Linked DNA regions of Homo sapiens: region 1 is linked to region 2. A link means that fine-mapping ties the variant in region 2 to the expression of a gene that starts in the linked region. Tissue or cell type: testis. Region 2 holds a variant in brackets; the other region holds the start of a gene. All regions are shown on one strand. Distances are between the middles of the regions.

Evidence for each region. PIP is the estimated chance that this variant, and not a neighbour inherited with it, causes the effect.
Region 1: it holds the start of LINC02898, and the variant in region 2 is the best candidate, but not a certain one, in a credible set for the expression of LINC02898 in testis (GTEx, PIP 0.78).

Annotation. Positions count from the first base shown.
Region 1 is chr2:41,952,104-41,954,786 of GRCh38, forward strand. It overlaps LINC02898 (long intergenic non-protein coding RNA 2898), which reads right to left and starts at 1,703. Exons shown (of 4, transcript NR_161189.1): 1 at 1,624-1,703; 2 at 885-1,205. LOC124905996 (a long non-coding RNA gene) reads left to right here. Exons shown (of 3, transcript XR_007086296.1): 3 at 508-946. RefSeq lists an enhancer at 1,439-1,578.
Region 2 is chr2:41,990,124-41,992,806 of GRCh38, forward strand. No RefSeq gene overlaps it. Among named protein-coding and RNA genes, the nearest start is that of LINC02898, 38 kb to the left of the region's middle. RefSeq lists a silencer at 286-580. The variant C/T (reference allele first, on the strand shown) is at 1,282.

The DNA.
Region 1 (2,683 bases), 38 kb before region 2:
ACATAAAGTGGACTGTGTACATGCACTCTTTAGGAGCAGTCTTTTGGCCCCAAACTAGATTCTATGGGAATTCCCAGGTAAGATGCTTCTCCAAAATGAAGTGAAGCCATGTGACCCAGGGTCTTTAAACATTGCTTCCTCAAACCCTCCCCCAGTAGGGTACTTCTCCCCCAGAGGCATGGGGATCTGGCCACACTATAAGACAAACTTCTGGAAGTGGGGGCACATCAAGCGTCTGGGTGGTGCCAGTGCCTGGGCCTGAGCTAAAGTCTTCACCAGCCTGCCCCTTTTGGGGAAGCTTCTGACAATTTCGATTACCGAAATCTTCCTGCCTTTTGGGATAATACAGTCAAATGCTCCATTGAGACAGACTTCTGTATCTTTACAGGCCCTAGAATGAGACCAACCCAAGGCCCAGCATCTGCAGAATGTCCCGTGTAGAACCAGGAAGGAAAAACTAAACCACTCCTTTTCCCCTCTTCCCAACACACCCTTCTCTCCTCTCAGATCCTTGGAGTTCTCCGCACTCAGAACCTACAAGCTGCCCAGGGGTCTTCCAGACCAGCCCCAGTTGCTTCCAGCCTCCTTCCGCCAGCACATCTCTGCAGCCTTGGGCCACCGATCCTAAGCCAAAGCCTCCCCAACCTCTGGGCTCAGAAGCAGGTGTAATCCCAACTCCAGCAGGGAATTCCAGAGGTGAAGGTCACGGGAGCATCTTTAATCTTCGGTTCCCAGTAGAGAAGATACCCAAAGAGCAGGGAGCAGGAGCCAGCTCCAGGCTATACATTTGTTTATTCATCAATCATTCATTTATGCATTAATCATTCATTCCCCCCACCCATCAGTCATTCATCTGCTTATTTATTCATTCAATGTGTTTGTACCTTGTCCTTGCTTTGGTTACCGCAGATGTTGGTCCTCTCCTGCTTTGATCTGTCCCCTGTTTCTCTGGCAGCTGCACAGCAGAAGCCTTCTCATGTCCCTTGTTGGGTACTTGGCTGAGAGTGTGTCTCCCTCTCAGAGGTGCCTGAGGAAAATCAAAGGGACAGTGCAGAGCTGTCTGCTGCCTGCAAGTTCCCTTCCATTGCAAAATCCAGCCTTCTGGTCCGTAGGTCAGTGGGAGAGATTGGGAGGGGCTGCAGAGGGGTCTCCAGGCCCAATCGAGGAATAATGGTCTGGACATCCTCACCATGTGTGAGCTCTGGCTGTTTAAAAAATAAAAAAAATAAAAAAATAAATATACTGGTCCTTCTGGGAGAAAGGGGACTGCAGGAGACTCTAAGCCTCTGTGCCTGGTTCTGAGGCCTGAGCTCAGCACTTTGGCAGGCCCAGAGAACATGGTATGGGAAAACCTGGGGCTGGAGTTTCAGAGGCCTAAGCTGTGAGCCTTCTGACAGGTCTCCCACCTTCCATCCTTCCATCTACCTGACCCTGTAAAGTCTGTTCTCAGCCAGCAGCCAGAGATCCTTTAGTAAAAGACCACGTCCTGCCTGTGCTCAGAACCCTGCCCTGACTTTCAGTTCTCTCGGAGAAAAACCCAAGGCCCCACTTGATGGGGTCCCCCTCATCTCCCACTCACTCCCTCCATTCAGCCCCCACTGGCCCCATCCTTCCCGAACTCACCAGCCACACTCCAACCTTAGGGCTTTTGCTATAGTTGTTTCTTCTAGAACAGGCTTGACCTGGGTGACTTGCTTGAAAGTGACTCACTTTCTCACTTCCTTCAAGTCTTCGCTCAATTGAAACCTTCCCCATAAGCCTACCATGACCCATCCTATTTAAAACTGCAAAGCACACAGGCACGCGCGCACACACACACACACACACACACACACACACCACTCTCAACCCCCCTTCCTCTTTAGCACTCATCACCTTCTAACATAATACATAATTTACTTATTATTTTTACCATTTATTGTCTGTCTCTGCCTGCTCAAGTATAACTTCCAAAAGGGTAGGGGTCTTTGTATGTTTTCTTCCCTGATGTATCCCGAGGGTGGGCCATCCCATGGATGCCTGGTGTATAGCAGGAGCTAGTAAAACATTCCTTGGATGAAAGAATGAATGAGTGAATGGGCTGTAGGAAGCTCTGAGGATGAAGCTTGTGAAGCCACAGGCTGTGGAGTTTGGGGCTTCCTGGGGGTAGAATTTAGGAGGTCCACAGTGGCTTCTATCAGCTGTGCTGAGGAGAGAAGAGCCAGGCAAATTGCCCGCTGCCAGCCTTCTCGGGGAGGAAAGGTAGGCAGCAGCATCGGTGGGGATTGCGCTAACTCAAGGTGCCAGCTCCATGCTGCTCTGGGGCTGGCCAGCGCTCTGGATGTCATTAGCTGATTTGTTCTGCTCTGCAGAATGTACTTTTCATATTTAGGCAGAAAAAAACAGCTTTCGATCCTTGTGCCCTTTCTTCTGTGAGCTGTAGCACATGGCCTGCTAATTATGAATTAATCCTCTAAAGAGCATGTTCATTATTCTAATTTAATTGTGCTTCGTTTCAGAAAATAACTAAACCCAGCGTGGAATAAACTCCAATGCTGATCAGTTTTCAAGAAGTTAACATAAGACAAAATTCTGCTAGAGGGCAGCAGCAATTTGGAATCATTAAAGGGAACCCATGTAAATAATAAAAACAAAACTAAAATGCAGAATTAAATTAAGGAATAGGAAATTAAATTTGGGAATC
Region 2 (2,683 bases):
GAAACAGCGGGTTGGGACAGGAAAATGGGGTGGGGGTGGGGGAAGGCAAGCAGTCTGAATTCAACCCAAGGGTCCAAGGCAGCACCTCAAGAGCTTTTACACAATTACAGCACAAGTGCACATGGAAAAGTCAGATTCCTTTTTTAATAACTCCTTTCTCAGACTCAAAAAATTTAGAAGATTTAGAAAGTACAAAAAGTGTATAGACGCCAAGTAAAACGAACTACAACCCTTGACTTGAGTGACGCTCATTTAAAGAGGCAGGACATTACTAGGACTTAAATTGTTTCAAGAATTTATCCCTTTACCCTCAAGTTTCAGCTACTAACATCTGAAAGAAAAAAAAAATACGGCTCTCTTACTTTGTCCAAGAGGACAAAGCCTCCTGAAAGGAAGTCAAGGCCACAGCTGATGGTAACAGAACAGATTCTGTTTCCTGCACTCCAGAAAAGGGGAGGCAGCTGTTCATTCAGAAAAGGGTTATTGATCATCTCCTATGTCTGGCACTGTGTTAGGCCCTGGGTTCCAGCACAGCAGATGCCATCCCTTCCCTTGGGGCACTTACACCTTCTGCAAAGGCTGCTGTGGTCCCTGAGGTCATTCCTACAACACATCCCTGAAACATACCCACATGCACTCTCACACACCCCCACACGCACTCTCACACACCCCCACACACCACAGCATCACGCACAACTTGCAAACTGGAATACACAATCATCCACAGATACTCCCACTCACACACCCATATATCCACATCACATCACACTGACATATACTTACACAGACTACACACTCACATGCAATGCACTCACCACACACACACACATTCCTACAACACGCTGTCACACATGCAGTAACTGCTAAACACACACGAAGCAGTTATCTCCTCCTTCCTTTGTACTCCCTTAGCTCCTGTGTAAAGTTAGCTGTGGCATTTACCATACTGTAATGTGATTAATTACATCATGCCTCTCCTCCACCTCTGCCTCAACCTGGAAACTTCCTAAGTTCATTTCTGTAAGCCCATCTTCCTGCTCAGTGCCTGGCACATAGCAGGTGCTCAGTAATGTTCACTGCATGAACTTTGAATGCCTCCACTATGGACTTCGGTCCAAGGAGCAAGTCTCACCCTCTCCTCCACTGGCTAGAGTTGGAGTTAAGGGGGAAAAACATCTAAGGGAGCCCCTCAGCAAATGTTCTAATACAAGGCTCTCCCAGCTCAGCTCTACAGCACCCAGTGATCCTTTCTGCTTGTCCCACTTGTTGGAGGGAAGCCAA[C/T]GACCTTGTGAGAAGAGGCAGGAGAGACTTTGTCAGATCTGCATGGTGGTCTCAAGGTCCCTGCCCGATTCTCCCATTTCTCCCTTTTTCTTTTCACAATATTACTCCCCAGTAAACCTTTTGCACACAACTCCAAAAGGAGGAGTGGGAGGGAAAGGAGGAAGAGGAGCATGAAAGACTAGCTGCATCTCCACGGCATGCACCCATTAGTGAGAGCCACAAGCCTAGGTCTGACCTTTGGCTTCAAGGAGCCAGAAATCTGATTTCTCAGCCCTCTGAAGGTTGAGCAGGTGTCAGGAGACTGAGATGTGCTCACCAGTTCCATGCAGAATGGTAGGTAGACTGAGCAGCTGATAAATCTCAGGAGAGGGAGGGGAGGGGAGGGGAGGGGAAGAGAGGGAAGGGGAGGGGAGGGGCCGAGGAGGGGGAAGGGGGTGAGGAGGGGAAGGAGGGAGGAGGAGGGCAGATAAGCAGAGGGGAGGAGCAAGGGGGAAAGGAGGGAGAAGGGGAAGGGGAGGGGAGAGGAGGAGGGGAAGGGAGGGAGGGGAGGGAGAAGAGGAGGGGGAGGGCAGGGTAGGGGAGGGGAAGAGGAAGGCAGGAGAGGGGAGGGGAGAGGGGAGGGGAGGGGAAGGGAGGAGGTTGGCAGGGGAGGGGAGGAGAGGGGAGGAGTTGGGCAGGGGAGGGAAAGTGGGGGAGAAGGGGAGTGGAGGAGAGGAGAGAGGAAGGGGCAAGAAGGGAAGGGGAGGGCAGGAGAAAGGAATAAGGGAGAAGGGGAGGGCAGGGGAGGAGAGGGTAGGGGAGAGGAGGGGAAGGGAGGGAAAGGGAGGGAAAGAGAGGGGAAGGGAGGGGAAGGGATGGCCCCAGATGCACCCTAGAGCACTCACTCCAACATCTGTAAGGTGCACTCTGAAGCAGCAGCCCAATCCTTGGGGCTGCTAAAGCCCCACTATTCCCACAACCTTCTAGTGTCAGGTCAGCTCCAGGCCATGCCCAGGCCAAATGGAATACCAGCATAACTTCAGAGCCACCCACCCCTTCCCTGTCACAATACCTGTTGGGTTTGGCCATCGTTAGTCATCCCTGATGCTCTGCTGAGGTTGTGTGACACCCCCACACACAAACTCCCACCCCTCCCAGGCACCTTCACACACAAGCACAGCCCTGGGGGCAGCTCCCATTCCAATATCATGCTTAGGAACTTGACTCTGTCCCCAGGCTAAGCTTCCAGAGACCAGGACTTGCCCACGTCCCCCTCCCCCACCATAATACACCAATACTGAGTCCTCCCTTCTCTTTCTGCAAGAAGGCAGCAGCAAGCAAGACCTTCTACTCTTTGGGGCTGTTTCCCCACCACCAGGCTGAGAGCTGTGCTCCACCTTGGGACGCATTAGCATTTTTAAGG